Homo sapiens: one gene and its partner. The protein of the gene in region 1 purifies or fractionates together with the protein of each later gene. This does not show direct contact. Each region holds a gene or a part of one and is shown on either strand. Other genes may lie near its edges.

Region 1 (3,802 bases):
CCACTTTTCCTCTTCTACTAAGCCATAAAAATTACTTATTTAATATGTTAATTATGTCTTCCCACCATGTGAATATGAGCTACACAAGGGCAAGGATTTTTGTCCATTTTGTTCACTGCTATATTCTGAGCACCTAAAACAGTGTCTGAAACATTAAACACTTAAGACATTACAGCTTTTTAGCTAACACATAAAACTAACCTCTTAGTGAACTGTCATCTGACTGGAATGATTTGTTGTTTTCCTTTTCTTCACATAGGTAGGTATGCTGCAATTTTTTTTTTTCAACTCTGTTAGGAGTGAAGGTTTCATTATTTCCACTTTTCTGTGGTTCCAACAAACTACTGTTTCTTGATGGCTGTTCTTGCTTGTCACGCAGTACTTTTTCTTTCATTCTTAGAAATATTTTTCCTGGTGATTCATAGTTTGCTTTATTTTTTAATCCATCCTTGTTGGGCTTTATAGCACTGATATCAAGAGAACTGTTAGAGGTAGTAGCCTCTGTTAGCATAGTTGATTGAAATATATTTTTATTGTTAAAAGTTGTCATTTTTAGGAACTGATTCTTTTTATGGTCATTCAATTTTAAGGAGGAGTTCTGATATTTCACCAAATCTTTTACAGGAGTAAGTGTGCCTGAAGGAATGCTGTCAAAAAAGATTGCATCCATGGGTAGATTTCTCCTTTGAGAAGATGCCTCTGGAGGTAAGTAAATTCTTGAATGTTTCAAAGGTGTTGCAATCATCTTGACAAGAAAGTAGCAACCAAGTTCTTCTAACAGAAAATTCACTTAAGCGCAATTTTCAGATAGAACTTCAGAAGGGATCCACAGAAACCTGTAGTTCAACGTAAAATCAGCCTTTATCATGCTTTGGTGCAGAAAATGTTTAAAGTTTATTTGCTTTCCACAACATTATACTAATTAAAATGTTTAACTGGTTCATAACAATACTAGATAATCACAAATCAGACTAAGATTTTATTTTTGTTAAAGTCTCCTTAACAAAAGAGCTGGGTGTGATGGTGTACACGCCTGTAGTCCTAGCTACTTGGGAGGCTGAGCAGGGAGGATCACTTGAGCCTGGGAGGTCAAGGCCACAGTGAGTCATGATTGTGCCACTGCATTCCAGCCTGGGTGACAGAGCAAGACCTTGTCTCAAAATAAAATAAAATAAAATAAAACAAAATAAAAGATATATGCATATGGCACTACATTAGGTTACAAAAGATAAAGTTCCACAAATATAATTTTTCCCTTTAGGCAGTTAAATTTTAAGGCAGCAACTACAAGATCTATTCTAATAAAAGCTAAAAAAATACTATTCAATTAGTTAATAATACCCAATCCTGATTTTTTATGCTCCAGAGCATTTACATTTTAAGGTCTTAGTTGAAAAATCCTCAAATAAATGGTAAATTGTTTTCATTCTGATTTTTTTTAATGTAGTGCTATTTAGAATTTTTAGCAGAAATACTGTACTTGAGTTTACGTAGTTTTAGTCTTGTTTCTTTCGTTTTTTTTTTTTTTTTTTCTTTTTTTGGAGACAGAGTTTCCCTCTTGTTGCCCAGGCTGGAGTGCAGTGGTGATCTCAGCTCACCACAACCTCCGCCTCCCAGGTTCAAGCAATTCTCCTGCCTCAGCCTCCCGAGTAGCTGGAATTGGAATTATGTATGCACCACCACACCCGGCTAATTTTGTATTTTTGCTAGAGACAGGGTTTCTCCATGTTGGTCAGGCTGGTCTCAAACTCCTGACCTCAGGTGATCTGCCTGTCTTGGCCTCCCAAAGTGCTGGGGTTACAGGTGTGAGCCACCGCGCCCGGCCACAACTTGTTTCTTATGTATAAATTTTATTATTCACACCTAGAAATTAAGGTTCTAGGTAAGGAACCATATAGTTGCATTAACTAATATTTGGTAAATAAATAAAACATTTCAATCCAAGGAGCCTGGAACTTACTAGTCTAGATTTACAGCATCTCTTATAGCTGAATTTATAACTATTCCAATTAGTTAACATCATATAAACATAAAAAAAAACTATCACAGAAAATTCTAACATAGCCAGACCAAAAAATATCAAGTATCTTTATCTACAGCAACTTCTGTGAGAAATAAGCAATTAATATACAAAGTATTATTTAATCCAATAATTTATGATAATAGAGAAAAAAAGAAGGAAAATATTCCTAAATTACAACAGCCAACAAAGAAGGCTATCTTGGGAGTCTGGAGTTCCTAAAAACCACTATAATTCTTTCATAACATACGAATCCTGCAAATACATATTAACGCATGCATGTATATGTTTATGATGTGCTAGTTCCAGGGGTTCTGTATTAGAAGTTATAATATTAGCCGTTCACTTCATTTCTGTTTTATTTTTGAGACAGTGTCTCTGTCACCCAGGCTGGAGTGCAGTGGTGTGATCAGGGCTCCCTGCAACCTCGAAATCCTGGGCTCAAGCAATCCTCCTACCTCAGCCTCCAGAGTAGCTGGGACCACAAGTGTGTGCCACTGCACCTCAGCTATGTTTTTTTTTTTTTACTTATTTGTTTGTTTGTTTCTGAGAGGGAGTCTTGCTCTGTTGCCCAGGCTGGAGTGCAGTGATGCGATCTTGACTCACTGCAATCTCCACCTCATGGGTTCAAGCAATTCTCCTGTCTTAGCTTCCCAAGTAGCTGGGATCACAGGCACATGCCACCCCACCCGGCTAATTTTTGTATTTTTAGTAGAGACGGGGTTTCACCATATTGGTCAGGCTGGTCTCCTGACCTCAGGTGATCCACTTGCCTCAGCCTCCCAAAGTGCTGGGATTACAGGCATGAGCCACCTGAGTTATGTTTTTTTACATTTTTTTGTAGAGACAGAGTTTCCCTATGTTGCCCAGGTTAGTCTCAAACTCCTGGGCTCAAGTGATCCTTCTGATTTGGCCTCCCACAAGTGTTGGGAATACAGGAGTGAGCCACCATGTCTGGCTTAGCTGTTCATTTCAAAGAAAGGCAATAAAGCTATACAATCTCTCAAAATCAAAAATGAATAAACTCGGCTGAGCACAGTGGCTCACGCCTATAATCCCAGCACTTTGGGAGGCCAAGGCAGGAGAATCACTTGAGGTCAGGGGTTCAAGACCAGCCTGGCCAACACGGTGAATCCCCGTCTTTACTAAAAATGTAAAAATTAGCCGGATGTGGTGGCACATGCCTGTAGTCCCAGCTACTCAGGAGGCTGAGGCAGGAGAATCACTTGAACCTGGGAGGCGGAGGTTGCAGTGAGCTGAGATCGCACCACCACTGCACTCCAGCCTAGGCGACGGAGTGAGACTCCAACTGAAAATAATAATAATAATAAAAATAAACTGGAAGACTGCAAAACAAAATGGCAAAGAATGTTCAGGTTTACACAATCTCAATTCCTCAGAGCCTAATGAAATGCTAAACAGAAAGTAAAAAATGCAAATAAGCGAGCAGCACTGAAAACAGAACCAACCTGTAATGGACATGCAGAACTGTCTTCATTTAAAGTCAGATAATTGTGGTCACGTTGAAAGGCTCCAAGAACCAAAACAGAGCTTTCTGTTTCCTAATGTCCCTGCCCCTAATTCAGGCAAGTAGTAGGATAAAGGTGATTAGCCAAGATTCTGAAAAAATCCTCAAATTCCACTTCCCCTCCCAAAGAAACAGAAAGTTGCTCTAGGAGACCTTTTTCCCACCATGTGATAAACAGCAACTCAATATAAGCCAAGAAAAAAATCGTCTACAATTTCCTCTGACCACAGAGGCTCTGCAGAATAGATAAACAA
Region 2 (3,500 bases), on another chromosome or scaffold:
GAAGTTACTGGCAGGTGAGTGGTGACTGTGGCTGGAAGCTATCCTGGAGACCACATCAACTGTCCAGATCTTAGTAGGACATATTTTCTTCCCACTGCCCGAAGCCTAGCTGGCCACTGTCACCACATTCACACGCTTGTCGACATGGCTGTGCTAAGATGCACAGTCCGCATCGTCAGGGGAGAACCCAGCTCCTTGCACCCAGTTGACACCTGGCAACTTTTTTCTTGTAACCACTGGCTCTGATTTCAGTGTGCAGGTAACAGAGCTGGAAGGGATGTACGTGTGACTCCGCTGCCTTCACTGGCCTCACCTGCCGTGCCTGCCCCCGGTGAGTGTGACATAGAAACTGTATGAACAGTGCGTGTTTCCTTCACTTTTGTTGGAGCTGCGTGGCCCCTCAGAGCTGCTCATACTGGCCACGCCATCATTTCCTGGTGTGTTTCATCAACATAACTTGTTAGAGATATACTTGGATTTCACTGGAAGATTAAGATGTTTCAAAATGAGCTGTTTTCTCCTCCACGTCTGCTCTTTATTCCAGTTTACTAGCTTGAAAAGTTTTGCATCTCCAGAAGCACAGGACTAGTACAGTGAACACCCTTCACTTGTTTCACAATTAACATGTTGTCATATCTGCGTTATCACCCCCTGCCACACACGTGCACACACAGTGTGTATTTATTTGCATTTGTGTATGCATTTATCCCTAAATGCCTCACACATACCTCCAAAAATCGGCTAATTCTCCTTTATGACTACAGTACGCTTAACACAGGCCAGAAATTGAACATTGATGCGGTACTGTTCTACCCATTGTGCCAGTGACGTCCTTTGCAGCCTTTCTGGTTTGCCTGATCGTTTCCGGACCCACTCAGGCTGGTACCACCGTTGCGTTTAGTCTCCCTCCATCAAGAGCGGCTCCTTGGCATTTTCTCCCTCATGGTCACCTTTCATATTATTGCCTTTCTTGAATAGCACAGGCCAGTAATTTTGCAGAATGTCCCTGAATTTGGACCTGATTGCTTCCTCGTGGTTAGGTTCACGTTAAACATTTTTGGCAAAATTACTACAGGGATGACGTGTCCTCTCAGAACATTTGGTCAGTCTGTCCCATTCTTGGTGACTTTTAGGCTGGTCATTGAGTTAAGGTAAGACCTTACTTCGATGTTTCTCATTGCGACAGGCCCTTTTTCCCTGGAGTCATCTATGTGTGATTCTTTGAGATCTCCTAGGAACCTTTTCTCTAAAAGCTTCTCACCCAGTGACTTAGAAGCCAGCAATGCGGATCGCCTGGGTGGAGGTCCCCGCCCAGGTTGTTTCTGTCTCTGCCGTTCCTTGGCACACGTCAGTTGGCATTATTCTGCTCAAAAGAGCTATCTCCCCTCTGGTTCTTTTTTTTGCTTCCTGTAGTTCCCTCTCATGCTTTGATTTATTTTATTTTTATTTTTTAGGATCAGTAGGAATTCATGGAGTCTTTTTGTTCTTTGATTCACATGTTATAATCCATTGCCGGTATGCAATTTGACGCTCAAGTAACCCCAGATTTAGCTGTCAGGGAGCCCCTTTCAGGCTGGCTTTTGTGTCGTGTAGTGCAACGACATGCGTTTTTGAGCACTTCTTCACCCCTGCCCTGATGCCATATCTGCCTCTCCCAGTTCTCACCAGCCGCAGTGAGTTAACACGTGCTCATCTGGTCAATTGTACAGCATAAAATAACTCTAGCATTGCAGCACCTGCTACCACTCTTCACAACCATCTACTAAATAAGCTTGAAAATTTCCAAGCAGCTCTTTTTATCCTTAGACAATATCTCTTTAAGAGGCAGACACTCAGAGTATTTGGACTCTTTTTTTTTCTCTTTATCAATTTAACATACAGATTTTTTTTTTGTTTGTGTTCAATTTTATGGTTTTTTCCCATCACTGTTGGTTTTTTTTTTTTAAATATAGGAAACATTTACATGATGCAAAAGTCAAAGCTATATGAAGAGGTTTGTTTAGAAGTCTTACACCCCTTCCCATCCATGTAGGTAAACAGTGTTGTCATTTTTCAGTTTCTAATTAGCTTTTGAAAAGGCATCCATCTTCTAAACAGCCTAGAGGGAAAGGAAGACACCTTTGGGAAATGTACGATGGAGAGTAGAAATCAAATTTTGATACCAAAAAATATCTCTGAGAAGAGTCTACTCCTACACATTTGTGGTGTTTTTGTTTTTGCTATTGCTTAAAAAAACATAGTCCTGATCCAATCTTAAGTTCTGTCATCTGTGCACATGGATGGTTTAGAATGGTAACACACCTTTACTTTATGTGTATCTTTTCTCCCAGGATACTGCAGTCGTATCTCCAGAAAGAGTCCTGGTGACCCAGCGAAACCAGCTTCATCTCCCAGAGAATGGGATCCTTTGCATCCTTCCTCCACAGACATGGCCTTAGTACCTAGAAATGACAGCCTCTCCCTACAAGAGACCAGTAGCAGCAGCTTCTTAAGCAGCCAGCCCTTTGAAGATGATGACATTTGCAATGTGACCATCAGTGACCTGTACGCAGGGATGCTGCACTCCATGAGCCGGCTGTTGAGCACAAAGCCATCAAGCATCATCTCCACCAAAACGTTCATCATGCAAAACTGGAACTCCAGGAGGAGGCACAGATATAAGAGCAGGATGAACAAAACATATTGCAAAGGAGCCAGACGTTCTCAGAGGAGCTCCAAGGAGAACTTCATACCCTGCTCTGAGCCTGTGAAAGGGACAGGGGCATTAAGAGATTGCAAGAACGTATTAGATGTTTCTTGCCGTAAGACAGGTTTAAAATTGGAAAAAGCTTTTCTTGAAGTCAACAGACCCCAAATCCATAAGTTAGATCCAAGTTGGAAGGAGCGCAAAGTGACACCCTCGAAGTATTCTTCCTTGATTTACTTCGACTCCAGTGCAACATATAATCTTGATGAGGAAAATAGATTTAGGACATTAAAATGGTTAATTTCTCCTGTAAAAATAGTTTCCAGACCAACAATACGACAGGGCCATGGAGAGAACCGTCAGAGGGAGATTGAAATCCGATTTGATCAGCTTCATCGGGAATATTGCCTGAGTCCCAGGAACCAGCCTCGCCGGATGTGCCTCCCGGACTCCTGGGCCATGAACATGTACAGAGGGGGTCCTGCGAGTCCTGGTGGCCTTCAGGGCTTAGAAACCCGCAGGCTGAGTTTACCTTCCAGCAAAGCAAAAGCAAAAAGTTTAAGTGAGGCTTTTGAAAACCTAGGCAAAAGATCTCTGGAAGCAGGTAGGTGCCTGCCCAAGAGCGATTCATCTTCATCACTTCCAAAGACCAACCCCACACACAGCGCAACTCGCCCGCAGCAGACATCTGACCTTCACGTTCAGGGAAATAGTTCTGGAATATTTAGAAAGTCAGTGTCACCCAGCAAAACTCTTTCAGTCCCAGATAAAGAAGTGCCAGGCCACGGAAGGAATCGTTACGATGAAATTAAAG

What was found.
Region 2: the proteins of MIS18BP1 (region 1) and HJURP purify together in Homo sapiens (affinity purification with western blotting, with the first as the bait; one study listed by BioGRID). This does not show direct contact.

What each region holds. Positions count from the first base shown.
Region 1 is NC_000014.9:45,246,542-45,250,343, forward strand, and holds part of MIS18BP1 (mis18-binding protein 1), read right to left. Parts: intron 3,598-3,802; exon of another isoform or gene 3,490-3,597; intron 837-3,489; 5' UTR 746-836; coding exon 202-745; intron 1-201. UniProt on the Homo sapiens protein: Required for recruitment of CENPA to centromeres and normal chromosome segregation during mitosis.
Region 2 is NC_000002.12:233,841,036-233,844,535, reverse strand, and holds part of HJURP (Holliday junction recognition protein), read left to right. Parts: intron 1-252; coding exon 253-331; intron 332-2,330; coding exon 2,331-3,500. UniProt on the Homo sapiens protein: Centromeric protein that plays a central role in the incorporation and maintenance of histone H3-like variant CENPA at centromeres.